4 separate regions of the Homo sapiens genome follow, and regions 2, 3 and 4 are each linked to region 1. Evidence: fine-mapped expression QTL. A gene starts in region 1. Each other region holds a variant in brackets. All regions are shown on one strand. Distances are between the middles of the regions. Region 1 holds the start of CLEC2L (C-type lectin domain family 2 member L). Region 2 overlaps CLEC2L (C-type lectin domain family 2 member L). Region 3 overlaps ZC3HAV1L (ZC3HAV1 like). Region 4 has its middle 11 kb from the start of KLRG2.

Evidence for each region. PIP is the estimated chance that this variant, and not a neighbour inherited with it, causes the effect.
Region 2: its variant is fine-mapped to the expression of CLEC2L in whole blood (INTERVAL, PIP 0.90).
Region 3: its variant is fine-mapped to the expression of CLEC2L in whole blood (INTERVAL, PIP above 0.99).
Region 4: its variant is fine-mapped to the expression of CLEC2L in nucleus accumbens (GTEx, PIP 0.90).

What each region holds. Positions count from the first base shown.
Region 1 is chr7:139,518,810-139,526,912 of GRCh38, reverse strand. CLEC2L (C-type lectin domain family 2 member L) reads right to left here and starts at 3,228. Exons shown (of 5, transcript NM_001080511.4): 1 at 2,796-3,228. The coding sequence starts at 2,985.
Region 2 is chr7:139,544,764-139,552,866 of GRCh38, reverse strand. CLEC2L (C-type lectin domain family 2 member L) reads right to left here. Exons shown (of 5, transcript NM_001080511.4): 5 at 7,882-8,103. Among named protein-coding and RNA genes, the nearest start is that of CLEC2L, 25 kb to the right of the region's middle. RefSeq lists an enhancer at 7,940-8,103. The variant T/C (reference allele first, on the strand shown) is at 3,854.
Region 3 is chr7:139,027,824-139,035,926 of GRCh38, reverse strand. ZC3HAV1L (ZC3HAV1 like) reads left to right here. Exons shown (of 5, transcript NM_080660.4): 1 at 1-274; 2 at 1,249-1,384; 3 at 6,967-7,225. Among named protein-coding and RNA genes, the nearest start is that of ZC3HAV1L, 4.2 kb to the left of the region's middle. RefSeq lists an enhancer at 1-478 and a silencer at 53-572. The variant C/T (reference allele first, on the strand shown) is at 4,793.
Region 4 is chr7:139,490,800-139,498,902 of GRCh38, reverse strand. No RefSeq gene overlaps it. Among named protein-coding and RNA genes, the nearest start is that of KLRG2, 11 kb to the right of the region's middle. RefSeq lists enhancers at 3,141-3,320, 3,881-3,930. The variant G/C (reference allele first, on the strand shown) is at 3,452.

The sequences.
Region 1 (8,103 bases):
TTCATTACGTGAACTCTGGACTCAGGTTTGGGGTGGGAAGCAGAATCAAGGGAGGCTGACCAGAAGTCCAAGTGTTGCAGTTAGGCCTGGGCTCCCCCAGCAGGGGCTGCAGGAGGCCAAGTCCAGGCAGCTGGGAAGAGGAGTCACCATACACACAGCCCACACTCCAGGGCCTCTGTCTACCTGAGAGGTAGAAATCATGACCTGACTTGGCAGATAAGGAAGCAAATGGTCCAGGAAGTTGGAAAGCCCGCCAGCCTGTGGCAATGGAAGGCTCTGCCCCAGCTTTACCAGATGCTCTGCTTCCTGCACCTCCCCACACTGCCTCAGTCCCTGTCCTGGAACCTCTGAGAGAACATAAATGTGCCCAGGGCCCAGAATGGTACCCGGATGTTGCAGAAAGAATGAATGCATGATGGAGACAAATACAAAAGCCAGCACTGGGCCAATGCAGCAGCACCCTGGAGAGGAGCAGCCCTGCTCCATGAGCTCCTTTCTTCTGGGTCCTCCAGAAGAGGACCTCTCCTTCCGTCTGGGTCCGCCAGACCCGTCTCTCTCTACCCTGCCCCACCCCAGTACTCCAGGGCTCAGTTCCTACATGGGACAAACTAGCTCTGGCCACCTGGCCCAGAACACATCGTGCTCTGGGTCTGGGACACCTTTCCCTCTGTCTCCTCTCAGGCTCCTTTCCCAGGCTCCTCTCAGAAGAGAGGAGCTTGGGGGCACCCAAGAAGACCTTCAGAGAACTGGCAGAAGGGAGGCCCCTGGCCAGACTCAGACTCCAGATTCTAAAACTCCTGTGGGAAAAGTCAGTAGGCCCAAGATGCTGAGTACCCAAGGACCACAGGCCATCAGGAGTGGGACTGCTCCTGGGGAGACCAGGGGAAGGAAGGGGAGGGGACTGCAGGTGGCATGAGTCAGAGAGCAAGGCAAGGCAGGGGGCCATGGTGAGGCAAGGCTGGACCACAGGAAGATGCTAAGCATGGGAGTGGGCTTGACTCAGGGCCCCAGGCAGCCTCTGGGTGACCTTCCAGCTTGGTGTGTGGTCTGTTCTGCAGCCTGACTGGCAGGTGGGCAGCCCAGCCACAGTGGGGAGGAGGAAGCACAAGGGGGTGGAAGTCAGGGCAGGAGGTGGACAGGAACAGCAAGCAGGAGGCATTAAAGGGCCACAGCAGCCCAGAAGCAGCCCTACCATGGGGGCTGGGGTTAAGGTTAGGGCAGACCCTTCAGAAATGCTGACGAATAAATGAATGAAGAAATACAGGCAAGAGGAGGGAACAACTTCAAGAAATAGCTTTGGCAGGAGTGAAGCGTGGGAACACAGGGCCACTCCAACAGTAAAGCCGGAGACAGCGTCACGGGGGGGTGTCTGACCACCTCCATCCATTCCACACAACTCTTCACAACCCACAGCTCTGCTACAGCTCTTCTCCTTGGTGACGCAACATCTTCGCCTCCTCTGTCCCTGCCACTGTCTGGTGGTCCAGCTTCAGAGTCTGCACAGCCCTTCCTCGGACAGTGCACGTCCCCTGGCCCATAGCCTTTGTGCAGAAGGCTGGCATTACCATCCCCACCTCGCCATCCTCAGCAGCCCCATGACCTGCCTTGGCCCAGCTGCTGGTTATGTCCCTCCTGGTCCACTGCCCCACCCCCTCCCTGACCTCGAGCCTGGGTCCCACCCCTCTGGGCCACCACCAGTCTTCCAAGGGCAAGCCCACCATCTCCACCCCTCAGTAGCCCCTTCAGAACAAAGTCCAAGCTCCTGGGCAAGGCCTGGCTGGCCCTTCACCGTCTGGGTCCTTCAGGCCCGTCTCTCTCCACCCTGCCCCATCTCAGTACTCCAGGGCTCAGTTCCCACGTGGCACAGAGTAGCTCTGACCACCTGGCCTGGGATACGTCATGCTCTGGGTCTGGAACACCTTCCCCTCTGTCTCCACGCCTGCTAAGAGGTCACCTACTCCTGGGAAGCCCTCCTTTTCTGACACTGCCTCCCTAAGGATGGGTGATCCAGGCTCCAGGCTTCCCTAGTTAATGCTGCCCAGGTCCTCCTTGTCCTTGGATTCAGGGTGCCAGGAGCACCCTGAGAAGCACCCAAAGGGCCAGCCACCCTCTCACCAACTCCTGCATCTCCCACACCACACGCCGCCGGCGGTAGCTAATACAAGTTTCCTTAAAGAGCTCATGAACTTGAAATCAATTCTCTACTTGGGTTACTGCCCCGGAGGCAGGCCAGGGGTCCCTCCCTGAGGCAGTCTGATGGAGGAGTAGGTGTGACCCCTGACCTTGCAAGGAAGAGCCTCTCCTGGATTCTCCACCCCTGCCCTGCCCTGCCCTCCCCACATGCCCCACCACCACGGGGTCCCCGCGGCTCTCACAGGGGCGGGCACCACCTCTGGGGTCTCCAGCTTTCTTACTTTACTCGAAGCGTGTTCACGACCACAGATTCCGCCACCCTCTCAACACGCCTGTCTGGTGGGTGTCAGGCAGTGTTTGTCCCCTTCATGCGTGAGGAGACGAAGGCTCAGAGCGTGAAGCCCGCTCCAAGGTCAGAGAGGGAGTCGCAGCAGAGGCGGGGTCGAGGCTGTGACTCGCGGTGGCCCCCGGTTCCCTCCCACCCCACCCCACGAACCGGCGTCTGGCCGCCCTGAAATGAATGACTCCGCCGCGTCCCGGCGCCGCGCTCCCAGCGCTCCCCTCCGGGACAGCGGCCAAGGTGACTCTGACCGCCTCCGGGTCGCGGGTCGGGCCTGGGCAGGGGTCCCTGGGCCAGGAGAGGGAGGCCGCTCCGCGCTTACCCTCCAAGGCCGCCTTCCAGCTGGTGCTGCCCTCGTAGCCCGACCCGGATCGCCGCAGCAGCCCCTCGGGGCCGCGGGCCTCAGCCTCTGCGGGCGAACGCGGCCTGGGGGCGGCGGGGGCGGGCGCGGGGCGCGCGGCGAGGGGCGGCGGCGGCCGGGCCCGCGAGGGGGGCTCCCGGGCCGGCTCCATGCGGGGCGCTCCGCCGCGCCGCGCCCGCGCTCCTGCACCGGGGTGCGGGGCCCAGCCCGACGCGCACTCGGCGCTCCGCGCGCCCTGCGGGCCCCCCAGGCCGGCCTCGGGTGGGCTAGGACCGCGGCGCTGGCAGGCCGGGGCTGAGCCCGGCTCCCCGCGCTGGAGCCTCTGCGCCGGGTGCCGCCGCGGTGCGCTCAGCGCCTGCCCCGCCGAGCCGCAGCCTCCACGCACAGCCGGGCTGGGGAGGAGCGCGAGGCGGCGCGCGGGAGCCGGGAGCCGTGGACCCGGGCGGGGCGGGGCAGGGGCGGAGAGGGAGGAGGCGCGGAGGAGCGGGGACAGCCGGCTCCCCGACCCCGCCACCTGGGCTGGAGGCTGGATGCTGTCGAGCTGGGAGCGCAGTCTTGGAGCCGGGAGACCTGGTTCTAACTCAGCTCCATCTCCCCAGCCGCCTGCTCACCATCTGTGAAAATGGGAATAAAGTTCGCGGGGACAGTGCAGGGAGGCTCAGGGAAGATGAGCGCCTTTCTTCCCGGCTGCCCTGGAGCCACAGCAGAGGGTGGTAGGGGCTGTGACTTGACCCCCAAACTCTTGATAAAGGAGAGAAACGTCCGAACGATGAGCACAGAGACAGTAGAGTCTAAAGGAGCAAGCGAAGTGACGTTGCAGATTCAATTAACATTTATTGAGCACCTACTAAGCGCCAGGGACTTTCACATATTATTAGCTGACAATGCCCCCAGGTGAGGCTGAGAAGTGGAATTTTGAGGTCAAGGACATTTCCGAAGGCGGCGCCAGGCAGGTGCGTGCTTGGCGGGTGTCTGACTCCCAGGCCAGGGCTCCCTCCGGAGCCTTCACTGGCCCCTTGCCTCAGCTGACCTCGCGTCGCCTGAAGCCCCACGCCTCCAGCCCTGATCCTCTTCCCCCTCCACCATTCTCAGCCCCAACCTCTGGTTCCTGTCTCCATCTTCAGTTCCTCATCCCCAGCTCCTCCTGCTCCCTCCCCCAAATCCAATAGGCCACTGACTCTTGTGAATTCTCCCTTTTAAAATATTTTTATTTTTATTTTTTGAGACAGGGTCTCGTTCTGTAGCCCAGGCTGGAGTGCAGTGTCACTACAGCCTCGGCCTCCCAGGCTCAAGCGATCCTCCCACCTGGGTCTCCCAAAGTTCTAGGATTGCAGGCGTGAGCTGCCGTGCCCGGCCCCTTTTTTTTTTTTTTTTTTTTTTTGAGACGGAGTCTCGCTCTGTCGCCCAGGCTGGAGTGCAGTGGCGGGATCTCGGCTCACTGCAAGCTCCGCCTCCCGGGTTCACGCCATTCTCCTGCCTCAGCCTCCCAAGTAGCTGGGACTACAGGCGCCCGCCACTACGCCCGGCTAATTTTTTTGTATTTTTAGTAGAGACGGGGTTTCACCGTTTTAGCCGGGATGGTCTCGATCTCCTGACCTCGTGATCCGCCCGCCTCGGCCTCCCAAAGTGCTGGGATTACAGGCGTGAGCCACCGCGCCCGGCCGCCCGGCCCCTTTTAAACTCTTAGTCTGCGCATTGCACTCCATCCCTCTAGCCACTGGCCAAGTACAAGCCAATGCCTTCTCTTGCCCGACCACAGCAGCAGCCTTCTAAGGGGTCTCCCATCCTCCACTCTTGCTCCCTCCTATCCAGCCCCTCCCCCTCCACACCCGCAGCATCTACCTAAAGTGCAAACTCACCACTCCTTCAGGGGTCCCTTTACCTGTGGATTAAGGCCATCTTTTTACAAGGCCTCAAGGTCCCTCATGGTCAAAGTCCTGCTCCTACCTAAGGCATCCTCTCCTCCCACCCCTTCTCTGCCAGCCCTAGACACACCTAACTATTCTGACTCTTTCCTCTGGGCCTTTGAACACTGTCTTCCTTCTGCCTGGAACACATCTCCTCCTTGGTCCTTCTAACCCCTCCTTGTAGCCCCCATGCACCCTAGTTTGCCTACCAAATTTCTGCTAATGCTTCTGATTGCACAGTCTCTAGGATACTGCATTCATTCAGAGTAGGTTCAACAAGACTACAACAGAAAACCCCAGTAAGAGTTTAACTAGAAAGAAGGTTTTTGTTTTTTGTTTTTTGGTTTTTTGTGTTTTTTTTACCTGAAAGAAGTCTAGAGGTGATCAGCCCAGGGCTGGATTGAGAGCTCCAAGATCATCAGGGACCCTAGCTCTTCCTCTCATTCTGCTCCCATCATCCTTAGTATATAGCCTACATCTTCAGGATTCCCTCATGGTCACACTATAGCCACTGTGGTTCCAGCCATCACACCTGCACACCAGATTACAGAAAGAGGAAGAACCAAGGGGAAAAGGGCATGCCTCTTGTTGAATCAGACTCCTTTAAAGAGTTTTTCTGGAACCCCCAGTGATTTCCACTTACCTTCCACTGGACACTTCTTTCTCAAGTAAGTTTGTGGAGTATAGTGGCAATTAGCTAAAGCCATTGCCACGCTCAATAATGCAGAGATTCTGTTAGGAAGAAGGGGGGAATGGAATATGTGCATGACCAGCAATCCCTGCCTCCTAAGCCTCCTGTGATCCCAGACTGTGGCACCTGTCCTTTGGGCCTTTGGAACACTCTCCACCTCTCTTCCCATAGCACTTGCCACATCCTACTGTCATTGTTTGATCCCCAACCAGATGGCCAGCTGTGGGGTGAGGGCAGAGGCACTGCTCTATCCCCCATTCCTAGGGCAGTGCCCCATTGGAACACCAGGCCCAAAGCTTCAGACTTCATGTAGGCACAAGGAAGCATCAAAGGTGTTTGAGCAGAGAAAGGTCATGATCACACCATGCTTTAGGAAAATTAACTTTGGGCTCTCCCTCTCCCTCCCCCTCCCCCTCCCCCTCCCTCTCCCTCTCCCCTCTTTCCACGGTCTCCCTCTGATGCCGAGCCGAAGCTGGACTGTGCTGCTGCCATCTCGGCTCACTGCAACCTCCCTGCCTGATTCTCCTGCCTCAGCCTGCCGAGTGCCTGCGATTGCAGGGGCGCGCCGCCACGCCTGACTGGTTTTCGTATTTTTTGGGTGGAGACAGGGTTTCGCTGTGTTGGCCGGGCTGGTCTCCAGCTCCTAACCGCGAGTGATCCGCCAGCCTCGGCCTCCCGAGGTGCCGGGATTGCAGACGGAGTCTCCTTCACTCAGTGCTCAATGGTGCCCAGGCTGGAGTGCAGTGGCGTGATCTCGGCTCGCTACAACATCCACCTCCCAGCCGCCTGCCTTGGCCTCCCAAAGTGCCGAGATTGCAGCCTCTGCCCGGCTGCCACCCCGTCTGGGAAGTGAGGAGCGTCTCTGACTGGCCGCCCATCATCTGGGATGTGAGGAGCCTCTCTGCCTGGCTGCCCAGTCTGGGAAGTGAGGAGCGTCTCTGCCTGGCCGCCCATCGTCTGGGATGTGAGGAGCCTCTCTGCCTGGCTGCCCAGTCTGGAAAGTGAGGAGTGCCTCTTCCCGGCCGCCATCCCATCTAGGAAGTGAGGAGCGTCTCTGCCCCGCCGCCCCGTCTGGGATGTGAGGAGCGCCTCTGCCCGGCCGCCCATCGTCTGAGATGTGGGGAGCGCCTCTGCCCTGTCGCCCCGTCCGGGATGTGAGGAGCGTCTCTCCCCGGCCGCCCCGTCTGAGAAGTGAGGAGACCCTCTGCCTGGCAACCGCCCTGTCTGAGAAGTGAGGAGCGTCTCCGCCCGGCAGCCACCCCGTCCGGGAGGGAGATGGGGGGGTCAGCCCCCCGCCCGGCCAGCCGCCCCGTCCCGGAGGGAGGTGGGGGGATCAGCCCCCCGCCCGGCCGCCGCCCCGTCCGGGAGGTGAGGGGCGCCTCTACCCGGCCGCCCCTACTGGGAAGTGAGGAGCCCCTCTGCCCGGCCACCACCCCGTCTGGGAGGTGTACCCAACAGCTCATTGAGAACGGGCCATGATGACAATGGCAGTTTTGTGGAATAGAAAGGTGGGAAAGGTGGGGAAAAGATTGAGAAATCGTGGTTGCCGGGCATGGTGGTGGGTGCCTGTAGTCCCAGCTACTCGGGAGGCTGAGGCAGGAGAATGGCATGAACCCGGGAGGCAGAGTTTGCAGTGAGCGGAGATCATGTCACTGCACTCCAGCCTGGGAGATAGAGCCAGATGGTTGCCGTGTCTGTGTAGAAAGAGGTAGACATGGGAGACTTTTCATTTTGTTCTGTACTAAGAAAAATTCTTCTGCCTTGGGATCCTGTTGATCTATGACCTTACCCCCAACCCTGTGCTCTCTGAAACATGTGCTGTGTCCACTCAGGGTTAAATGGATTAAGGGCGGTGCAAGATGTGCTTTGTTAAACAGATGCTTGAAGGCAGCATGCTCGTTAAGAGTCATCACCACTCCCTAATCTCAAGTACCCAGGGACACAAACACTGCGGAAGGCCGCAGGGTCCTCTGCCTAGGAAAACCAGAGAACTTTATTCACTTGTTTATCTGCTGACCTTCCCTCCACTATTGTCCTGTGACCCTGCCAAATCCCCCTCTGCGAGAAACACCCAAGAATGATCAATAAAAAAAAAAATAATAAAATAAAAAATAAAAAATAAAAAAAAGAAAATTAACTTTGGTACCAGGTACAAACCAGTCTGGGAGCAGATCAGCAAAGAAACTCTTGAAATAAACGGTTAAGATAAAAGGAGTAACAAAGGTGTAATACCAACGCATCGGCAGTGGCGCTGACCTTAGAAGGCTTCCGACAGTCAATCACAATACTTCAGGACCTATCAGAGGTAGGATCTAAGCCTCCCAGAGTCCCCGCACGCCCTTGTCAGCTTCCCTGCTCCTCTCCTGATGCTTCCTGGGATCACTTCCGAAATAAATTACTTGCACTTAAATCCTTGTGTCAGGGTATGTTTTGGGGGGAACCCAAAAGACAATGACCCTTACGGCTGTGAAAGGGTCCACTTCCTCAAGAAGGAGGTGCTCATGAAAATGGATAAAACCCATCAAGACCCCCCGCCCTAGGCCGGGCGCGGTGGCTCACGCCTGTAATCCCAACACTTTGGGAGGTTGAGGCAGGTGGATCACTTGGGATCAGGCGTTCAAGACCAGCCTGCCCAACGTTGCGAAACCCCGTCTCTACTAAAAATACAAAA
Region 2 (8,103 bases), 26 kb before region 1:
AGGAACAAACATGAGCAAGCTTTTTGGAATGATGGAAATGTTCTGAAAATTGATAAGAATGTGGGCTTTATGAGTGTATGCAATTGTCAAAACTCATTAAAATGTACATAAGATCTATGCATTTCCATATATGTAACTATAGCTCAAAAAATAAGTATTATAAGACACAGGAAGAAGCAGGAAAATAAATAATCAATATAAGCCGCAGAAGAAATAATCAGTAGAAACAGACCCACAGATATTAGCAGGTAAAGACTCTAAAATAACTATTATATCCCTGTGGGGGCACAAAAAATAAAAGAATAAAATAAAATAACTATAATGAATATGTTAAAGAAAAATTAAAAATATATTTGGTTAGTGAAAGGATAGATAATTTCAGCAGAGAAATGGAAACTATAAAAGAACCAAGAAGAAATTGAAGAATTGAAAAGTACATTATCTAAAATGAAAAATCTATTGAACAAAATCTAACAGCAAACTGGACACAGCAGAAGAAAGTAACACTTAACTCAAAGACTTGTCAGTAGAAAATATTCAAACTGGCTAGGCATGGTGGCTCACACCCAGAATTTTGAGAGGCCGAGGCAGAAAAATTGCTTGAGCCCAGGAGTTCAAGACCAGCCTGGACAACACAGGGAGAGTGTGTCTCTACAATACCTTAAAAATTAGCAGGCCATGGTGGTACACGCCTATAGTCCCAGACACTTGGGAGGCTGAGGCAGGAGGATCACTTGAGCCTGGGAGGTCAAGGTTGCAGTGAGCTATGATCACACCACTGTACTCTAGCCTGGGTGACAGAGTGAGATCCTGTCTCTAAAAAAAAAAGAAGGAAAAAAAAAATTTATATATACACACAGACATATACATACATACACATATATAACAGCCCTAATTGGAATCTTGGAAGGAGAGAAGAAACAGAAGAGTACAGCAGAAAAAAATGTTTAAAGAGATAAAAGTGGAGAATTTTTCAAAATTGATGAAAGACATAAACTCACAAAATCAAGAATTTAACTCCACACAGCATACAGCTAGACTCTATTTCTCAGCCTTCCATGACCACCCTGGCCAATAAATGTAGGCAGAAGTTTTGTGTGTCACCTCCAGATCTGGCCCTTGTCTAATACAGGTTAAGATATGCCATAGCAACAAACTCAAAATCTCAGAGCCCTTATTTCTCACTTAAACAGTCCAAGCCAGCCAGGAACGGTGGCTCACGCCTATAATCCCAGCACTCTGAGAGGCCAAGGTGGGCGTATCACTTGAGGCCAAGAGTTCAAGACCAGCCTGACCAACATGGTGACACCCCATCTCTACTAAAAATACAAAAATTAGCCGGGCGTGGTGGCAGCTGCCAGTAATCCCACCTACTCAGGAAGAAGCTGAGGCAAGAGAATCACTTGAACCGGGAGGCAGAGGTTGCAGTGAGCTGAGCTCGCGCAACTGCACTCCAGCCTGGGCGACAAAGCGAGATTCCACCTCAAAACAAACAAAAAACCAGTCCAAGCAACTCTCCAGGAAACCTGTCCCCTACATATTGGCTTAGCATCCCAGGATGCTTCAGTCTTATGGAACCTCCAAATCAATCACTACAATGGGGAGGGAAAATATGAAGCAGACATTGGTTCTTAAATGCTTCCACCTAAAAATGACAATGTGTCACTTTTCCTTGGTAAAAGCAAGTCACATGGACACCTAACTTCAAGAGGTCAGGAAATACAGTCCTTCCATCTGCTTGGAGACAAAGAAAAGTGACAAATATTAGTGCAGGGCAGTCATACCTATCACATCCCTCAGTGCACATGCTGTGTGAATGGCTCCTGATTGGAGCCAAATGGTTTCTATCACTGACCCACAGTAGTCTGTGGTGTGAGCAAGAAATACAGTTATCCCTCTGCATCCATGAGGGATTGGCTCCAGGACCCCCCATAGATACCAAAATTTGCAGATCCTCAATTCTCTTATATAAAATGACATATGACCTACGCATATCCTCTCGTACACTTTAAATAATCTCTGGATTACTTATAATACCTAATACAATGTAAATACTATGCAAATAATTGTGGGTTTTTTTGTTTTTTTTTTTTTTGAGACAGAGTCTCACTCTGTGGCGTGCAGTGGCGCGATCTTGGCTCACTGCAGCCTCCACCTCCCGGGTTCAAGCAACTCTCCTGCCTCAGCCTCCCAAGGAGCTGGGGTTACAGGCGTGTGCTACCATGCCCAGGTAATTTTCATATTTTTAGTAGAGACAGGGTCTCACCATGTTGCCCAGGCTCGTCTCGAACTCCTGACCTCAGGTGATCCACCTGTCTTGGCCTCCCAAAGTGCTAGGATTACAGGCATGAGCCACTGCAAATAATTGCTATATTATGTTCTTTTATTGTTTGTTTTTCAAATAGTTTCAATCCATGGTTGGTTGAACCCGCGGATGCAGAACCCACAGATGTGAAGGGCCAGCCTCTGAAATTTGGGTATTGTTACAGAAGCTAGCACAATGCTTTGCACAATACCTAGTCCATAAGAAGCTCTTAATTAATGTTGTTATTGTTATTCCAATTTATTATTACTCTTATTCCAGGTATTGTTGTTCCAATTTTGTCTTCGTTGTATATTTATCTGCTGAAAAGGAGTCTGTCCTCTAAACCACAGAACCCTAATAGATATCCTAAGTGGCTGGTCATCTCATTTATCTTTTTCTCAAAACCATCTGCAAGTTTCCTACTTTGTGGGCAGCTGAATTGGAAATGTGGGTTTCTAGGATCACAGACAGCATGGTGTAAAGAAAAGAGGATTTGAACCCGGAGGCAAGATCAGTTTAATTCAACACACATTTATGGAGCACCTTCTGTATGTACCAGGTGCTAGGGCTACAAAGGAGTGTGAGACTGGGTCCCTGCTCTCTAGGAGCTCACACCTCTGCATGAATGATGGACTAGTAAACAATTGAACAAAGCATGACACGTGCAATAATGAATATAAAGCAGAACAGGAGAGCCACACGGCCTGAGTGACATGACCTAGGATGTGTTACTTAACTGCTCTGGGCCTCATGGATAGTGAGATGGGGTAGATCATTTCTAGCCCCTGAAATATTAACATTTACAATTCTCAAAGCCCTGTGAAGTCAGCAGGGCAATTATTATTCCAGCCTTATAGACAGATGTAAAGCTTGAGGTCAGAGAGGTTTCATGTGGCGGCCTGAGCTACACAACTGCTTGTTGGTAGAACCAGACCCAGATTCAGGCAGGCCTTGGGAGCTGTATATAGTGCGTCCACTCCAGGCTGCCGTGGCAGACAGCGGGGAATCTCTGATGGGTGTGGCAAGGGGCTTTCTTGTTGCTCCCAATTTGAATCCCATACTTACAGTTTGGAGCTGGCCACAGACCAAGAGGAAACAGGCAGATACCCCTCCACCTGCTTCTGGTGCAAGCACTCAGCAGAGAGTGGGCATTTCTGAAAACCAGGTCACCTCTCACAGAACAATACAGTGATATCATATGGACAGGATTTTCCCAGTGATCGCAGGACCCTTCAAAACCAACCCCGGTCACTGATGACAACATTCCCGGGCCTGGCTTCCTCTTCCAGCTGTCTCCTCATCACTGGGCTTAGTGTGTGATGTGAAGGACACTCGGGAGATAGAGGCAGCTTTCCCTCAGCACCCCTGGACTTTTGGGCCACCCCACCCTCAACCCATCCAGCATGTGCACACTTAGGGAATGTGAATGAGCTCATTTAACATAAGCAAGGAGCTCACATTGGCTGTGCCTCTGAAATCATGCCACCAAAACCAAAAAGACAAGGCTCTGGACAATAGCCAGCCATCACTACCTCCCACCATAGCAAA[T/C]AGTTCACAGATGACACTACAGGCAATCTTATTATCATATACAGCAATTTCTGAGCATCTGCTATGTGTACTAAAAAGAGACCAAAAACACACAGTCCCTGCCATCTAGGGGCCACTATGGAGAGGCTTATAATCAGATGACAGGAATGGTCAGATGACAGGAATGGTCAGATGACACAAAGAGAAGAGTCACAAGATGACAAGGCCACACAGACACAGGGCCATGTAAGAGGCTCAGTCTTAAGAGGCAGAGACTTTGGGCAAAGGGAGTGGTCACGAGTGCTGTTGCTGCCAGGGAGGCATCCCAGGGAGGCTGGAGCTGGGCCTTAAAGGAAGAGAAGGACAGAAGTCATTCTTCACATCACCCACTCTTCCATGGGTAATTCACTGAATATCGTGTGATGAAGATAAAGTCATCCAGAAAAAGAATTGCCCGTGGGCATGCAGATGTCCTTTCCCAGGGTGGCCCCTTCTCAGCCACTGGCACACCCACCAGTGCCGCTCCATCCTCAGGGCTGGCCAGCACAGCAGGCAGCTCACCTGCCACACATGCAGCTCACCTGACACATGCAGCTCACCTGCCATACATGCAGCTTTCCGAGGTCCCTGTGGGGATGGGTCTGGGTTCAAATCCTGGCTTTGCCACCACCCAACAAATCCTGGCTTTGCCACCTCCCAACTGTATACTATGGGGCAAGTCCCATAGCTGCTGAGCTGGGCTGATCATGCTGACCTGGCAGGGCTATGAGGAAGATGCATACAATACTAGTTAATCCTCTAGGACAGCACCAAATGCTACCACCCAGTAAAGCTTCTTAAAAAGTCTTTCCTAGGGCCGGGAGCAGTGGCTTATGCCTGTAATCCTAGCACTTTGGGAGGCCAAGGCAGGCAGATCACCTGAAGTCAGGAGTTTGAGACCAGCCTGGCCAACATGGCAAAACCCCATCTCTACTAAAAACACAAAAATTACCCAGGCATGGTGGCACGTGCCTGTAATCCCAGCTACTCAGGAGGCTGAGGAAGGAGAATCACTTGAACTCGAGAGGCAGAGGTTGCAGTGAGCTGAGATCGCACCACTGCACTCCAGCCTGGGCAACAAAGCAAGACTCCCTTTCAAAAAAAATAAATAATAGGCCAGGCGCGGTGGCTCATGCCTGTTATCCCAGCACTTTGGGAGGACAAGGCGGGCAGATTAAGAGGTCAAGAGTTCGAGACTAGCCTAACCAACATGGTGAAACCCTGTCTCTACTAAAAATACAAAAAATTAGCTGGGCGTGGTGGTGTACGCCTGTAATCTCAGTTACTTGGGAGGCTGAGGCAGGAGAATTGCTGGAACCTGGGAGGCGGAGGTTGCAGTGAGCCGAGATCACGCCACTGCACTCCAGCCTGGGTGACAGCGAGACTCCGTCTCAGATAATAATAATAATAATAAATAATAAATAAAATTAAATAAAAAAAAAAGTCTCTCCTGGGTATCCTCCATCACAAAGTACCTCTGTGCGTGGCTGTGTGTGTGCTCCGGCTTCTACTAGCCCCCTGCCTACTGGGATTAGGGCTCAAATTTGCCTAGGGAGCACCTTCCCCAGCTCTGAGCTCCAAGGCCAGTCACCCCAAAAAGGAAAAATCTGCCCCAGGGGATAAGGAGCGAGACTTGGGGAGATGCGGTCCTACAGACCCTCCTTGCTGAAGGAGACATGAGCTCTGGGGATCAGAAACAAGTAGCATGTCTGCCCTCAGTGCTGCTGCCTCTAGCTGCTGAGAACACAGCACGGGGTGCCAAGGCCACGCAAACTGAGCCTGTTGTTCAGCCCACAAAGGGGACAGGGGTGGCCTGGCTGGTCTGTAACCCTTGGAAGGATTTCTGACATTTCTGAAGTTAGGTGTACAGGGTTTTGTTTTTATCTTGTACTTCCTTCATTGGTAGAAAAGAGTTTGAAAAAATCTTTCTTTTTTTTTTTTAAGACAGAGTCTCCCTCTGTCGCCCAGGCTGGAGTGCAGTGGTGCGATCTCGGCTCACTGCAACCTCCGTGTCCCAGGTTCAAGCAATTCTCTGCCTCAGCCTCTTGAGTAGCTGGGATTACAGGCGCCCGCCACCATGCCCAGCTAATTTTTGTATTTTTAGTAGAGACGGGGTTTCACCATGTTGGTCAGGCTGGTCTCAAACTCCTGACCTCATGATCCACCTGCCTTGGCCTCCCAAAGTGCTGGGATTACAGGCATGAGCCACTGCACCCGGCCTGAACATGGATGACCCTGGATCAGGGCACATGCTCTGCCAAACTGATTTAGAATTGTTGCATGGTCCCAGGACAAACCTAAAGTTAAAAGAGCTTATTTGCCACTAGGCTTTAAAAGCTTCAGGCAGGAGGCTTTGGATCATTTAATAAAAAATAAAACCCAGGTCAGACGCAGTGGCTCACATCTGTAATCCCAGCACCTTGGGAGGCCGAGGCAGGCAGATCACCTGAGGTCAGGAGTTCAAGACCAGCCTGGCCAACATGGTGAAACCCTGTCTCTACTAAAAATACAAAAATTAGCCAGGCATGGTGGCACTCACCTGTAGTCCCAGCTACTCGGGAGGCTGAGGCAGGAGAATCACTTGAACCCAGGAGGCAGAGGTTGCAGTGAGCCAAGATTGCGCCACTGCACTCCAGCCTGGGCGACAGAGTGAGAGTCTTTCTCAGAAAAATAAATAAATAAATAATAAATAAAATAAAACCCGAACGGCACAGGTTACCCATTCTGTGTCCTCTCACATTGCTTCCCTGAACTCCCAGGGCAGGAGGAAAGCAGGGCTCTGAAGCCCTCGGCCACGTGGTTCTCAGGACTCTGGCAAGGTAGTTTACTCACCTTTGGAAGTGTGCCCTGCCTCGGGCATCTCTGCAAGAATTAAGGGAGCTGCCATATGTAAAGCAAAAAGTACTGAGGCTTTTGAACCTCACTGTCTTTGAGGGGTGGATACTGGTGAGAAACACGGGCTTATATGTAACTGAGAACAGGTGGGAGTGTGGGACTCCCACCGGAGAAGTGGCAGCAGCTGACCACTTCCTCGCCCCTCAGCCCCTCACAGCCACCCCTACAGGCCCACCATCACCAGCTGAATTCCCTTAACTACTTTATTGTATACTCAGGTGCCCCACTGGCTTCCCAGTGACAGCAAAATATAAAACCATAAACCACCTGTATTTTATGAAATATCTGGAAAGCACGCGGAAAATGTAACAAACCCAAGTTGGTGGTTTTGTCTGAAGACTGTAAAACCAGTACTAGGACTGTGCAGAGCACAGCAGGACCCGGTTTCTCTGAGCTATTTTCTGAAAATGGGCCAGGACCCAAATGCACACACTGGGCTCCCAGGCAGGCCACCCACATCTCATCTGCCCGGGGTTATCAGGAGGCTGGAGAGGCCTGGGCTCCACAGCTGGAGCCTCAAGTGTGTGTGGAGGAGAGCATGGAGCCCCCACAGACCCGAGGGCATTGCCTGCCAACCCCATGCCCCGACTGCTTCCTCCCCAGGCAGCTCAAGGGGGATAGGAAGAGGCCATAAGACTTTCACAAACTCTTTTCCAGCCCAATGTGAACACCACCTAATTTTCATGTTCACTTCATTCCATCCTGCCCCGATGCAGAATAAACCATCCCTTGACTATGTTCCAGAATGTTCTAGCACTTTCTGAACTGTTTCCTCTGCTCCTTGCGTGCTTCTTGGGGGATTAAGGCCAGAGATCCCCCATGCCTGGTGTGGTGTCTGGCTTGCGGTAGGTGTGAATAAACGTTTGTCATCTTGAGGTGACTAGCAATGAAGGAGCTGGAACAGCCACGTAAGAATACCTTAAAGGCTTAGCAACATGAAACGATGTCCTGAGGCCAGAAGGTGCTTTTTTTTCATCCTCACACACCGCTATCTGCTGCACTAGAGCAGGTGCATTTTGTGGTAGCCCCCACAGACTGGCACCCAGAGATGTGCCCCTCTCTGCCCCTCCCCGAGCTCTGACTCTGGAACAAATGGCGGCAGACTTCTCTGGACATGAGATATTAACTCTTTATTCCGTTAGTGACCAATACAACAGCACCACGGACACAGCAGGGGCCCTGCCTGAGAACCCAGGCAAGGCAAAGAAGGGGGATGCAGGGGACCTCTGGGGCCCGGGGCGGGGCTGGCCCGGCCTAGGTGAGGGGGAAGCTTTCCCAGCCTACCTCCGCCGGCAGCCAGGAGAGAAACCAGTGGGGAAGCGGGGCTGCTGGGTGAA
Region 3 (8,103 bases), 490 kb after region 1:
AGCTGTCGGAGGCCAGGCTCCGGGACGTGCTGCAGCGCGCCGGGCCCGAGCGTTTCCTGCTGCAGGAGGTGGAGACGCAGGAGGGCCTCGGGGACGCGGAGGCCGAGGCGGCGGCCGGCGCGGTGGGCGGTGGCGGCACCTCCGCCTGGAGGGTGGTGGCCGTGTCCTCTGTGCGCCTCTGCGCCCGCTACCAGCGCGGCGAGTGCCAGGCCTGCGACCAGCTGCACTTCTGCCGCCGGCACATGCTGGGCAAGTGCCCCAACCGGGACTGCTGGTGAGAAGGCGGCGGCGGGCGGGGACTGTGGGCGCTGGCCGCGGGCCTGGCCGTCCTGCTGGAAGCGGGAGCGACGGGAAGGGGGGCTTCGTCCTGCCCCGGGCCGGGGACGCGGGGCTGGACGACCCCCTCCCGCAGGCCTTTCCTGGGCGTCCTCCCCCGCGCTTCCAGCAGCTGGGCGGAAAGGCGCGAAGGTCCTCTCCATGGAGACGTCTCAACCGCCCACGCCAGAAAAGTTGCTGCCCCCGCCCGCCCCCCCGGATCCTGCGCGACGCGGCCGGGTTAAATCCGGACTGGGACTTCGGAGCTCACTTATTCTGGTGATATTTGGCGGGAGGTGGGGGGCGTGGGGCGTCTGAGGATCCCATGAGATCCCTGGACCCTTTAGCCGGAAATCGCTGCTCCCCCATATCCACACACTTGTGCAGAAGCGGGTCTGCGCCCTCTAGGTTTAACAGCGCTGAGCCAGTCTCACCCCAGGAAACAGGGCTGGATGGCTTGGGTGAGGCCCTGTGGTTCCTGACTGCCAGAGCTGGGGTTCGGGGCTGCCTCCTGACCCCAGGCTGTGCTTCACAGCCCCGAATTTTCCTTGGTTGTCTCTAGCCACACACCCCGCCAAAGCGGTGCTGGGGATAGGGGCGCTTTCTTTTTAACGTTGGTGGACTGTGGCAGCTGTTGCCGGGGAGAAGGCCAGGTGCAGTCGCCTACGGAACAGATGTGCATCCTCAGGCGAGGTGGGCGACCCTTGGCTTCAAAGCATCCCTACTGAAAATTCAAATGACCCTGGGAGAGGAGTTCCTTCAACCCAATTTTCTTATTTTCCATCAGTGCTTATTAGGCCATACTATCCCCGGTTTCATGAAAATTACTCAACTTCACATGTATTAAATACATTGAAAGCTGCTCAAGGCAAGGAATTGGACAGACTGGTCCTTCTTCACCTGGGCATCTGACCGAGGGCTTTGTTCTTTTAGGTCTACCTGTACCCTTTCCCATGATATCCACACACCTGTCAACATGCAGGTCCTGAAAAGCCATGGACTTTTTGGTCTCAATGAAAACCAGCTTCGGATCCTGCTTTTGCAGAATGACCCCTGTCTTTTACCAGAGGTGAGTCACCAAGGAGTCACCCTCATGTCACATTTGCTACAAGTACTTTCCCCATTTATTTTTCTTTTGGCTTTACATATTAATTTTAATTGCCTTCGAAGCAACATGATTCAGTTTCAAATGCTTTAAAGGTACCCTTTATAATTGCTATCATGGCGAAATAGTACGTTTGTTTCAGTTTAGCCATACACAAAGAAGTTTTAAAAACAAAATAGTACAAATCCCAAGAGAAAATTGGAACATCAATTAAGACCACCAATTAAAAGCAAGATTTTCTAATCTAGCACAGTGATGCTATCATAGACACCTCCACTTGGCCAGAAGAGGGATGGGAAGAAGGGGAGATGTTGAGAAAACAGAGGATAGTTCATAATTGTGGCCTGATTTTAACTCTAATGCATTTCAGCGTCTAGAAAGGAAGATAGCCACAAGACTAGAGGTAGGAGCTGGAGCCTTTGGTGCAGGTGGCAGAGGCTGCTCTCAAGGCAGCAGAATCTGTACCCAGAAGGCAGTCCTGGAGTTGATCTCAGGAACAAGCAGGTTTCTTCCTGACATGCATAACCTGTTTCATTTCTTCGAGCACTGAAGCCAAGTCTGGTATGTCACGGTTGTGAGCCAGAGGCATTCCAACCAACCATGTTGCCCAAAGTAGATGCAAGCAGTAGCTGAAGCAGGTTATTGGCAGGAAGGGAGAGGAGGGTGGCTGCACCTATGAGGCTGGGTCCAGTCCTTCCTGTCTCAGAGAGAAGGCGTGGTGCCGCTGCTATTTGCCTTTTAATTTTATAGTACTTTTTGATTTATAGAAGTTTAGTGTTTTTATTTTGTCAAATCTATCGAATGTTTTTTTGGTATGCCCTTTTTTAGGATGTATCTTGGGCCCAGCCTCACCTTGTCATATTAGACTACTTCAGTGTTTTGTGAGCAGCTGATGGGTTGGCTGCACTTACAACAGGAGCCTCCCCTGTGCCTCCACTTGTCCCCATCACCTGGGACTGGAAGTAGGTGACATGTGGCACAAAACGTGATCATGTGGGCAGCAGGGACTGTGGAAAAACACAGTGCATGAGGCAAGAATGGTGCCTCACATCTCTTGTATGAAATGCCTGATGATTGCTTTTACCACTCTCTCAATAAAAAAGACAATAGACAGGTAAAGTTTCATGCTGGTGCATTGATGGACAAATTTCTAGAAAAATACAGCTTGTCAAAATGGATTCAAGAAGAAACGGAAAGCCAAAATAGTGTCATAAAAATTTTTAAAATAAAAGCATTAAACAAACCTCAAAGCATTAGTTAGAAGGCTTGCACAAGAAAACATCAGACTTATATAGTTTTTTTTTTTTTGAGACAGGGTCTTACTCTCTCACACAGGCTGGAAGTACCTCGGCTCACTGTAGCCTCTGCCTCCTGAGTTCAAGTGATTCTCCCACCTCAGTCTCCTGAATAGTTGGGACTACAGGCACGTGCCACCATGCCCAGCTAATTTTTGTACTTTTTGGTAGAGATAGCGTTTCACCATGTTGGCCGGGCTGGTCTTATATGCCTGACCTCAAGTGATCCCTCTGCCTCAGCCTCCTAAAGTGCTGGGATTACAGGCGTGAGCCACTGCGCCTGGCCAGGCTTATATAGTTTCATAGTTGAATTCTATCAAATTTTTGTCTTTATTGAAGTGTAGTTGACAAATAAAAATTTTATATTTACAGTGTACAATGTGGTGTTTTAATATATTTACATTGTGAATTGATTGCAATGATTAAGCTAATTAGCATACCATTACTTTACATGGCTATTATTTTTTGGGTGTGGTAAGGACAGCAATTTTCAGGTATACAGTATGTTATTTTTTTAAATTTTATTTTATTTTTTATTTATTTTATTTTATTTTTATTTTTATTTTATTTTATTTATTTCTTTTTTTTTGAGATGGAGTCTCACTCTATCACCCAGGCTGGAGTGCAGTGGTGAGGTCTCGGCTCACTGCAAGCTCTGCTCCCGGGTTCATGCCATTCTTCTGCCTCAGCCTCCCGACAGGCGCCCACCATGATGCCCAGCTAATTTTTTGTATTTTGTTTAGTAGAGATGGGGTTTCACCTTGTTAGCCAGGATGGTCTCGATCTCCTGACCTCGTGATCCGCCCACCTCAGCCTCCCAGAGTGCTGGGATTATAGGTGTGAGCCACTGTGCCTGGCCATTATGTTATTATTAACTACAGTCACCTTGCCGTACAGTGGATTTCCAGAAATTCATCCTGTTTAATTGAAACTTTGTTCCCTTCGACCTACATATCCCTATTCTCCTTAATTTTAACAAATCTATAAGGAACAGGCTGTTCCTTATATTTGGAGTAGGTGTAGGATCTATTTTCCATGATCTCCAATTCTTGAACCACTATCATACTAATTAAAGTAGTTTATCTTTCATTTTTAAAGTTTATTTACTCTTTTAGAGACATGGTCTCGCTGTGTCACCCAGGCTGGAGTGCAGAGACAGGGTTTTGCCATGTTGCCCAGGCTGGTCATAGCTCACTGCAACCTCGATCTCCTGGGCTCAAGCAATCCTCGCACTTCAGCCTCTCGAGTAGCTGGGACTGCAGGTGTACACCACCGCACCCAGCTACTTTTTTTTGTTTTGTTTTTTTGAGATGGAATCTTGCTCTATCGCCCAGGCTGGAGTGCAGTGGTGTGATCTCAGCTCACTGCAATCTCCACCTCCCTGGTTCAAGCGATTCTCCTGCCTCAGCCTCCCAAGTAGCTGGGATTGCAGGCGCTTGCCACCATACCCAGCTAGTTTTTTGTATTTTGAGTAGAGATGGGGTTTGTCATTTTGGCCAGGCTGGCCTTGAACTCTTGACCTCAAGTGATCCGCCCACCTTGGCCTCCCAAAGTGCTGGGATAACAGGCGTGAGCCATAGCGCCTGGCCCCCAGATACTTTTTTTTGTTTTTGTTTGTTTGTTTTGTAGACAGAGTCTTGCTCTGTCGCCCAGACTGGAGTGCAGTGGCGTGATCTTAGCTCATTGCCACCTCTGCCTCCCAGGTTCAAGCAATTCTCGTGCCTCAGCCTCCCTAGTAGCTGGGACTGCAAGCAAGTGCCACCATGCCTAGTTAATTCGTTGTGTTTTTAGTAGAGACAGGGTTTCACCATGTTGCTCAGGCTGATCTCAAACTCCTGAGCTCAGGCAATCCGCCTGCCTTGGCCTCCCACAGTGTTAGGATTACAGGCATGAGCCACTGTGCCCAGTCCACTTTTTAAATTTTTCTGTAGAGACAGAGTCTTGCTGTGTTGCCTAGGCTGGTCTTGAACTCCTTGGCTCAAGCAATTTGCCATCCTTGGTCTCCCAAAGTGCTAGGAGTACAGCCATGAGCCACTGTGCCTGTCTAATTTTGTTTGTTTGTTTAATCAGTTCATGT[C/T]TCCTTTTCCAGATAAGCTTTAGAATCACTTAAATTCCTAAAACTATTTTAAAGGAATTCTTTGAGAAGGGTAGAAATTGCATTAAAGTTACGAATTTATTTTAGAAAATTGGCATCACAATTATAAATAGGATGCTATTTCATTTTAAACCAGGTCATCTGTGTCTTGTAGGATTTCCCATATTTTAGATTTGACTGATTACATTCCTGTAGTACTATTGAACATGTTCCTGTATCCCTCAAATTTTGATCAGATTTAGGATTTATTTCACTTTATTTAATTAATTAATTAATTAATTAATTATTATTATTTTTTGAGATGGAGACTCACTCTGTCGTCCAGCCTGGAGTGCAGTGGCGTGATCTCGGCTCACTGCAACCTCTGCCACCCAGGTTAAGCAATTCTGCCTCAGCCTCCCAAGCAGCTGGGATTACAGGTGCCACCATGACTGGCTAATTTTTGTATTTTTGGTAGAGACGGGGTTTCACCATATTGGCCAGGCTGGTCTTGAACTCCTGACCTTTTGATCCACCCACCTTGGCCTCCCAAAGTGCTAGGATTACAGGTGTGAGCCACCACACCGGGCCTTATTTATTTTTGAAATGGAGTCTCGCTCTGTCGCCCAGGCTGGAGTGCAGTGGCGCAATCTCAGCTCACTGCAACCTCCGCCTCTATTTTATTTTATTTTTAAGACGGAGTCTCGCTGTGTTGCCCAGGCTGGAGTGCAATGGCACAATCTTGGCTCACTGCAACCTCCACCTCCCCGGTTCATGTAATTCTTCTGCCTCAGCCTCCCCAGTAGCTGGAATTACAGGCGTGTGCCATCATGCCTGGCTAACTTTTGTATTTTTAATAGAGTCAGGGTTTCACCGTGTTGGCCAGGCTGTTATGAACTCCTGACCTCAGGTGATCCTTCTGCCTTGGCCTCCCAAAGTGCTGGGATTACAGGTGTGAGGCACCGCGCCCAGCCAGGATTTATTTTATAGCAAGAGTTTTTTTACGTGTGCAGCATTGTTAGGGTGACTCAGCAGCCCATTTGCCTGGGACTGAGGGGTTGCCGGGGATGTCAGACTTTCATAGTAAAACCTGGACAGTTCTATTTCTGTTGCATCACATCAGGAGGCATATAATGTCATCTTTGTGTGAGCGGCCAAGACTGATGCGTGGTTTCAGGGTCAACAGCCTGATCCCATCATTATAAAGTTCCCTATCAATGTGGTCTTGGTGTGTCTGGGATAGACCCAGTTTATATTAGTTGTCCCAGTGTGATTATTAATAGTGCTCCCTTGCAGCCTAAAAATGCCCTCGTCTGGATCATAAATTAGATCTTTGTGCCACCCGTTGAAACTGGTTTCCCTGGAAGCAGAGCCTGAGATAGAGACCCAGGTATGTGTGATTTTTTTGAGGGCGGGCTTTTCAGGAAAACCCAGTGTGGGAGAGAGGGAAGCAGGGTCTAAGGAAGGAAAAGCTACAAGCACATAAGGTCTGGCCTTGACTTCATTCATGGGGAGCTGTGGAACAAAGATCACGTTGAGTCTAGCTTTGAGGCACTCTAGCATTTTTTTAGCTTTATCTAAGTCATTCATTGGCTACAGGCTTTGGGGACAGAGGGCAGTTCAGCTGAGAGTGTAAAGTAAGAGGGGGCAGCTGTGAGTCACAAGCAGCCAGTGCCCACAGCAGCGGGAGTATGGTTAGCACCACTACACTATCATCAGGCTTTCCCCCAAAGATTTTAACAGCCACTGGTGATCAGAAGATGTCATTTAGTCTTCAGTTTAGCTAGAGAAGCTATAGTCTTTTGGCTTAAAAGATAGAGTGAAAACTAATATTGGCCGGGTGTGGTGGCTCACACCTGTAATCCCAGCACTTTTGAGAGGCTGAGGTGGGCAGATCACCTGAGGTGAGGAGTTGGAGACCAGCCTGGCCAACATGGTGAAACCCCGTCTCTTCTAAAAATACAAAAATTAGCTGGCTGTGGTGGTGAACGCCTGTATTCTCAGCTACTCGGGAGGCTGAGGCAGGAGAATTGCTTGAACGCGGGAGATGGAGGTTGCAGTGAGCCAAGATGGTGCCACTGTACTCCAGCCTGGGTGACAGAGCGAGACTCCATCTCCCCGCTGCCAAAAAAAAAAGAAAAACTAATATTTCAGGTGTTCCCTCATTTCTGTACCAGGTCTGTTTGCTCTACAACAAAGGGGAAGCCCTGTATGGCTACTGCAACCTCAAGGATAAATGCAACAAGTTTCATGTGTGCAAATCCTTTGTGAAAGGAGAATGCAAACTTCAGACCTGCAAACGGTCCCATCAGCTTATCCATGCTGCATCTTTGAAGCTGCTACAGGACCAAGGACTGAATATTCCAAGTGTTGTTAATTTTCAGATAATCTCCACCTACAAGCATATGAAGCTGCACAAGATGCTTGAAAATACAGGTAGGAATATCCAAGAAGGACAGAGAAGTATCAGCGATATGGTTTTGCGATGCTTCACTGTGAAGAAGTAAGAACAGTGACATGAAAGTGAGTCTGGGGGCAAAGCAGTTCCTATGTTAATTTCATCTTTGTTCTTGGGAAAGTTTAGAACAGGCAACATTGTATTGTATAGAACGGTGATCCTAACCAAAGGAGAGAAGGGATGGAGTTTATCTTTAGCACTGTCACTGCTAGCTACTAGAATCTACCCAAGTGATTGAACAGTAGCTTGTTGGTAAATTGGATGTCAGGAAGTAGGTAGAACAGGTTTTGTTTTTGTTTTTTTTTTTGAGACAGAGTCTCAGTCTGTCGCCCAGGCTAGAGTGCAGTGGCGCGATCGGGGCTCACTGCATCCTCTGCCTCCCGGGTTCAAGCGATTCTTCTGCCTCAGCCTCCCGAGTAGCTGAGACTACAGGCATGCGCCACCATGCCCAGCTAATTTTTGTATTCTTAGTCGAGGCGGGGTTTCACCATGTTGGCCAGGATGGTCTCAATCTCTTGACCTCATGATCTGCCTGCCTTGGCCTCCCAAAGTGCTGGGATTTCAGGCATGAGCCACACGCCCGGCCTAGTAGAACAGTTTTAATGGCATAGTTAGGAAAAAGAGGAAGGAGATGGGCCGGTGAGTGGAAAAGTAAGATTAATGTAGGGATGGCTTTCTTGTCATAAATATAATTTTTGGCTTTGTTAATTTTTAAGTAATTTTAATGACATTACAGAACAATTTGGAAAATAGCAACTGGAAATGAAAATTGTATATGATTTTGCTCACTCTAATCTACTATACTTGTTACAATTTTATTATAGGCCCTTCAGTTCTGTTATATACAAACACGAAT
Region 4 (8,103 bases), 28 kb after region 1:
GCTCTGAAGAATCAGGTGGAAAACAGCCCTCCCATGGCCTGTGAAAGCGTCCTGGGCAAAAATGCAGTGGAATCAATAAGCCAGCTGGTGGAGCTCCCGCCTGGAACCAGGGCTCCTTATGTTGTTGTTCATGAGTGGGCTTCAGGTTGTGACCCCCTGAAACTGAAATGTATAGGTATTTACTAGGGAGAGGGTTCCCAACTTTTACTGGAGTTTCCAAGGAATCTATATACAAACCAATTTGGAACTACTTCCCTAGAAACTCCCATTACCCACAAGTGAAATAATAAACCGATTTTTCCTGAAGTGTAAAAGGTTCATCACGAAACTAGAATTGTTAGCAATGAAAGCAAAGCTTTAAACTTGACAATGGTCGATCTCCCAAGCTGGGCCTTGAAATTCCCATCAGAGTTATATATGTGGATTTATAAAGTGCAGTCTGAGCCCCCGTGATCACAAAATGGCAAATGATTTTGTCCTCGGGGGCCTGGTGTCTCTGATGGGTACTCAGTAGTAGGAGTGTCTATTCCCTTAGGGAGGAGGGTGGACCTCAGTGGATCCATGGACTTGGTCCCAAGATCGTTAGAGATGTTAGATTTGTCCCTTAGAAGATCACTTCTATATATCGGAGGCAGTGACTCATGCCTGTAATCCCAGTACTTTGGGAGGCTGAGGTGGGCGCATCACTTGAGCTCAGGAGCTCGCGACTAGCCTGGGCAACTTCGCAAAACCCGTCTCTAAAAAAAAAAAAAAAAAAAAAAAATTAGCCTGGTGTAGTAGCACACACCTGTAATCGCAGCTGCTCAGGAGGCTGAGGCATGAGAACCATTTGAACCTGGGAGGCGGGGATTGTAGTTAGCAGAGATCGAGCCACTGCACTCCAGCCTGGGCAACAGAGTGAGACTCTGTCTCAAAAAAAAAAAAAAAAAGACGGTCACATCTACGGAAGGGTTTTGTTCACTTCAGCCAGAGCTAAGTGATGGCTGACAATTTCCACTTGTCTGACGCCCTCATGATGTTTTTTTGTTTGTTTGTTTGTTTGTTTGTTTTTTGAGATGGGGTCTCGCTCTGTTGCCCAGGCTGGAGTGCAGTGGCACAATCTCAGCTCACTTTAACCTCCGCCTCCTGGGTTCAAGCGATTCTTCTCCCTCAGCCTCCTGAGTAGCTGGGATTACAGGTGCCTGCCACCACGCCTGGCTAATTTTTGTATTTTTAATAGAGGTGGGGTTCTATCATGTTGCCCAGGCTGTTCTCGAACTCCTGAGCTCAAGTGATCCGCCCACCTCAGCCTCCCAAAGTGCTGGGATTACAGACAAGAGCCACTGCGTCCGGCTTCAAGATGTTTATGATTAGGACCCAAACTGGTCCAACTTTCTTTCTCATTCTCCCATTCATCTGACCCTGATCCTCCTCTACTCTTCACCCTTAACATATTTATATCTGCTTAGAATTCAGCAAAGCGAAACTCTGCATCCTGAAAACCTGAGCAGGCATTTTGGACCACATGTTCATGGCAACATAATCTGGATCATATTCACTGGGTCTGTGGTAGGGAACGTTCTCACTTTGCATTAAGAAAAGGACAACCAGATACCAACTTTTAGAAAATGAAATTAAAAATTTTAGCAAAGCATTTAAACTATTTTCTTTTTTTTTTTTTTTTTGAGATGGAGTCTCGCTCTGTCACCCAGGCTGGAGTGCAGTGGCGCAATGTCGGCTCACTGCAACGTCCACCTCCCAGGTTCAAGCAATTCTCCTGCCTCAGCCTCCTGAGTAGCTGGGACTGCAGGCGTGCACCACGTCCAGCTAATTTTTTCGTATTTTTAGTAGATACGAGGTTTCACCATGTTGGTCAGGCTGGTCTCGAACTCCTAATCTCAAATGGTCCACCTGCCTCGGCCTCCCAAAGTGCTGGGATTACAGGCATGAACCACCATGCCCGGCCTCAACTATTTTCTGAAGTAGATTTCCCCTGAAGCCAGAGGCTCCTCATCGGACATTTATTCTTCTCTAACTGACGAATGCGGCTTTTACTCGGGAGAAAAGCCTCTTTATGGGCTGTGACCATCTTCCTCCAGCCACCTGACTCCTCGTATTTGACAGGCTGGTGATCATGTTATGCTTGTACCACAAAGGACTGTGCAGATATCTGACCGGATATTCTCGCTGCTTGAAAAGCACATGTCTGATTCAACCCCGCGTGGTGCTGTCATGAAACCCTCCTCCCCAGCCAAGCCATATGCATGGATGTTAGTGTTGATGTGTTGTAGTGTCGTTGTGTGCCCCCAATCTCCCTTAAAGGCCATGGTTATTGCCAGAGTTATTAACCTGGGCCAAGGAGGGTCTGTCCTCACAACTCCCACTTTCAGGGGAATGAGGGAATTTCAGGCTTTTTCCGGGCCACAGTTGATTTGCACCCTTGAGGGTGGTCCCAACAGGTACAGAAGAGCTTGGCACAAAATGCCCATGGATAGCAAGTCCTGGCTGGGTTGTTCCCCCTGCCATTGCCAGTTTTGGGTTAATAGGGGCACTGAGGGCTGGATGTGTGGCGGGAGGTGGAGTGTAACCCTGAGCCCCTAGAGAAAAGGGACACGTGGTTTGGATTAAGGTCCAAAGGAGGATCTGGCCTTGAAGTGTGCTGGTTTTGGGGCCTGCAGGATGGAGTGACTGTGATTTGGGAGCAGGGTGTGGGGAATCCCTGGATTCTAGGGCTGCTCCCTTTTGGGGTGTGTGAGTGTCCCTGGAGAGGCACGGTGGTCATGTGAGACCCCTCCTCTGTTTCACACAGGCAAGTCCTTGAGTGTTCAGAATCCTCCCAATATCCGACAGCTCTCAGGAAGCATACTCTCCTGTCCTGAGGTGGGCAGAGGAGATGGAGAGAACAGGTGAAGGCAGGTCACAGAAGCAAGACAGGACTGACACGCACCAGGGCCTGGCTGGGCAGTGGACCTCAGACTGAGGACAGGCAGAGGTGGCCAGGCCAGTTCAGTCCTGATAGAGCCAACTCCAGGGCCCGAGAGACCATCAGGCAAAACTGACCCCCCAGAGGGCTGTGGCGCTGCTGAGGCTTTGCGTCTCCCCTTTAATCCTGAGCAGCCCAGGCTGCTCGCTGCCTCCAGCCCTGCTATCTACCCTGACATCCAGCTTTCCTGCAGTGGCCTGACTTCCCTGGGAGGACCAATCTCTTAGATCCAGGTGGAACCAGAATCTGGTGGGTTTTAAATGAATTCAGTCTCTTTGTCCTCATCGAGCTCCACACAGTCGGGCCAAAGTGGGTAGTCAGGGTCTTGTGAGGAGACCCCCACATCTTCCTCTGCAGTCTAGCAACCCATTGGGGCCCAGGCACAGGCTCTAGGAGAGGGGCTGTTCACCAGGGCTGCGCATTCAGCAGAGCAGGCTGTGGGCTGCTTAGCCCCAGCGGGTGCCATTCACCCAGTGCAGATGTGAATGA[G/C]ATCCCTGGAGTGGAGCAACTCATCATCCCTGCTCCTGACAGCAGTGACAAAAACACCCCGCTGATGGGTAGAGAGAGTCTGGTTTAAAATTAGCTCTTTCACTTTCCTATTGAGTCATTACCCCCCCCCCAAAAAAAGAGAGATTTTCTGCTTCCTCCTCTGAAGAGGGCAGTTGGACTTTTTATCCTGAAAATGGAAGTGTGCCTAGCCCCAGGGGAGAGTTGAGTGTTTTGTTTTTAAAAGCCTAGACTCATAAAATAATAATAATACAGGACGTTTGGAATCAAGGAAGCTTCCATGGGCTGAGAGCTAAGAATAGCCCAAGGATGGAGGAGGCTGATGGGACAGGTGTTCCCAGAGGGTCTGGGGAGGTGGCAGGCCCCCAGACTGGGGAGGGTGTGAGTGAAGGATGCCTGTAGGGGGTGGCCCTGAGAGTGTGGGCAGGTGCAATGGCTGTCAATGCCACATAAAGGGCAAGGGGATCTACATCCTAAACAGTGAAAGACCAGTGCCCGGAGACTACATCTACATCAGGAAGAAGAAGCAGCAAAATTCTGACCCACAGCCCAAGAGTGAGCATCCTTTTTCAGGACATTAATAAGCCCTGGGGTCCTTGTTTACTCTCTTGGGAGGAGGGGGTCACAGAATGCACACATAGTGAAGTTCTCATGTATTTTTACAAATGAGGGCTGGAACTGGATACAGTGTAACTTGGGGAAATAAGGAAGGTGACATTTCTCATACCTGAGAGTTGAGAAGCACATTACTACTCATCACTGACTTTTAGGAGCCCTGTCCACCAAAGGGACAACAGTAATGCAGAAATAGGAGAGGAAGTTGATAGGATTCAACCAACAAATAGTTCATCTCCACAGCTGTTTCCTGAGGTTCGGTGGGGTTGGACTTTAAAGAAAGTGAGATCAGGAGCCAGGTGTGGTGGCTCACGCCTGTTATCCCAGCCCTTGGGAGGCTGAGGCAGACAGATCACTTGAGGTCAGGAGTTCAAGACCAGTCTGGCCAACATGATGAAATCTCATCTCTACTAAAAATACAAAAATTAGCCGGGCATGGTGGCACACACCTGTACTCCCAGCTACTCAGGTGGGTGAGGCAGAAGAATCGCTTGAACCCAGGAGGTGGAGGTTGCAGTGAGCTGAGATCATGCCACTGCACTCCAGCTTGGGCGACGAGAGCAAAACTCCATCTCAAAAAGAAAGTGAGATCAGGGACATCAGGGATAGCACACTGCAGACACGATGGTTGAGCTAGGAGATCTCCCTTTAAAAACTCTCCCCTGGCTGGGCAGGTTGGACAATACCTGTAATCCCAGCATTTTGGGAGGTCAAGGTGGGAGGTTCGTTTGGAGGCCAGGAATTTGAGACCAGCCTGGGCAACATGACCAAGACCCTGTCTCTTAAATTTTTTTAAAAAAACTAGCCAGGCACTGTGCTATGTCCCTGCAGTCCCAGCTACTCAGGAGGCTGAGGCAAAAGGATTTCTTCAGCCCAGGAGATGAAGGCTGCATTTATTTTGATTGCACCACTGAGCTATGATCACACCACTGCACTCTAGCCAAAGTGACAGAGCAAGACCCTGTCTCTTAGACAAAAATTTAAAAATAAATTTTAAAACTTCCTTAAAAATCTCTTGCTTAAAAAACTAAGCACATGGGCTGGGCACAGTGGCTCACGCCTATAATCCCAACACTTTGAGAGGCCGAGGCAGGTGGATCACCTGAGGTCAGGAGTTCAAGACCAGCCTGGCCAACATGGTGAAACCCCTCTCTACTAAAATTACAAAAATTAGTTGGGAGTGGTAGCACACACCCGTAACCCCAGCTACTCGGGAGGCTGAGGTGGGAGAATCACTTGAACCTGGGAGGCAGAGGTTGCAGTGAGCTGAGATCATGCCACTGCACTCCAGCCTGGGTGATACAGTGAGACTCTGTCTCAAAAAAAAAAAAACAAACAAGGCCAGGCGCCGTGGCTCACACCTGTAATCTCAGCACTTTGAGAGGCCAAGGTGGGCAGATCACTTGAGGTCAGGAGTTCAAGACCAGCCTGGCCAACATGGTGAAACCCCGCCTCTACCAATAATACAAAAATTAGCCAGGCGTGGTGTCATGTGCCTGTAGTCCCAGCTACTTGGGAGGCTGAGGCAGGAGACTCGCTTGAACCCAGGAGGTGGAGGTTGCAGTGAGATGAGATCACGCCACTGCACTCCAGCCTGTGTGACAGAGCGAGACTCCATTTCAAAAACAACAAAACAAAACAAAACAAACAAAAAAGCCAAAGCAGATGGTCACCAAATCACATGTATATCCAAATACAAGATCATTCATATAAGGTGGGGGAGATACTGCAGCACGGCCTCTCCTTCTACCTGCAGGGAGTTTTCTGAAGGGAAGAAAGAGCCATGATTAGGCAGAACAGGAACTGGAGAAATCACAATAGATGAGGGGAACCTATGGTGAGGCAGTAGCACTAAGACTGCGGGAGAATAGTAAACTCTAGACCAAGCAGGCAGGATCCGGTCTAAGAGGCAAGGTGGAGTAGACGGTTTTCAATGGCAGGTTTTCACAACAGGCTAATGGATTCAGCTTTAAATGAGAGGGAAAAAGGGAAGGGAATGGCTAGGAACCATGTTGGGACAGACAACTGGGCCAAGCTTCAGGTGAGACTGACCTAAGGAAAGTCTGGCAGGAAATGGAGTCCAGGGCCTGGGCAGACTGGCCCTATGCTCAGGGGTTAGACAGGGAAGCTCCTGTGTGTTGAGTGTATTCACCAGAATTCATGTGTTGGAAATTTGGTCCCCAATGTGGCACTGTTGGGAGGTGAGGTTAGTAAGAGGTGACTAGATCATTAAGTGAAATCAATGCCTCTCTTGACAGCATAAATGGGTAAATTATTGCACTCACTTGCCCTTCCCCTTTGCTGCCATGTTATGATGCAACATGAAAGCCCTTACCAGAAGCTGCTGCCATGCCCTTGGACTTCCCAGTCTTTAGAACTATAAGAAATCACTTTCTTTTCTTTTCCTTTTTTTCATTTTTTATTTTTTTGAGACCAAGTCTCGTTCTGTTGCCCAGGCTTGAGTGCAGTGGTGTGATCTTGGCTCACTGCAACCTCTGCCTCCTGGGTTCAAGTGATTCTCCTGCATCAGCCCCCTGAGTAGCTGGGATTACAAGACATGTGCCACGACACCAGCTAATTTTTGTATCTTTGGTAGAGATGGGGTTTCACCATATTGGCCAGGCTGGTCCTGAACTCCTGACCTCAAGTGATCTGTCTGCCTTGGCCTCCCAAATTGCTGGGATTATAGGCATGAACCATTGCACCTGGCCTTTTCTTTTCTTTGTGAATTACTCAGTCTCAGAATACCTGGCAGGTATTCTGCTATAGCAACAGAAAATGGACTAAGACAGAAACTGAGGAGAGACTCCCAGCCACCTGCACATTAGTGGTGAAGGACCCCTGATACTTCCCAGGCCAGCTCTCCCTCCCATATTGGTTTAGGGTTTCAGTGTTAGGAGCCTGGCAGTGGGTGGCATGGGGCAGGCATGAGTCCCTTGCATCTCAGGGAATCAGAATATCTGGTGTCTCTCTATCTTGGGCAGTGCTAGAGAAACTTGCCAAATTCTTGTATTTGGGAGACCTTATATTCTACTCTTTTCTCCACTCCTCCCCACTTTTCCCTGAAAATGATTTCTTCATGGCTTTTTTTCCTGATTATAGAAATAATTACCACCTTTGTCTTAAAACACACATGAACACATAATAGCTGTTAATATATTTGATTAGACTACAATTTTCTACATTTAGTCATGACTTTCTGGTGGTGTATTCTAGGCCTTTGATTAGATTTTTGCAAGGCCTGTTTGATTTGGGGGATACTTAGGCCTCAAGACTCTTGGACTAGCAAATCTCATTCATAATGGGCTGATTTAGTTCAGAGGGGAAGAAGATACTATTATCCTTAAATCTGGGACCTCTTCACCAAGGTGCTCCTGGGCACTTGTACCTCCTCCCTTTGCTACCCTCAGTCTCTGGTGACAGGAGTCCCACACAGCCTGGCAGGAAAAGTCTGTTACACACCTGTGATGCAAGGAAGTGCTTTTCCTGGTCTCACATATCCAAGCCCAGCCCTACTCCATTGCTCCCCCAGGTCTCCTGGTCCTTCTACCTGCTCCCATCTAGGTCTTTCCAAGTATTGAACCCCAGACTCGACAAAGTCAGCTAACGCTGGGGACACTAATGCAGAGGAGAGCTAGGTCTGCCCCCCATATCCCTGAGCCACAGCTGTCTATCCACACCATTACAATCCCACAAGTGCTGCATTGGACAGGAAAGGATTCTGGGGATGGAGCTTCTAAAAGGGAGGGTTTTGTTTTGTTTTGTTTTTTCTTTTGAGACGGAGTCTCACTCTGTCACCCAGGCTGGAGTGCAGTGCCACAATCTCAGCTCACTGCAAACTCCACCTCCCGGGTTCAAGCGATTCTCCTGCCTCAGCTTCCTGAGTGGCTGAGATTATAGGCGCCTGCCACCACGCCCAGCCAATTTTTGTATTTTTAGTAGAGACGGAGTTTCACCATGTTGGTCAGGCTGGTCTCAAACTCCTGATCTCATGATCCAGTTTTTTTGTGTGTGTGTTT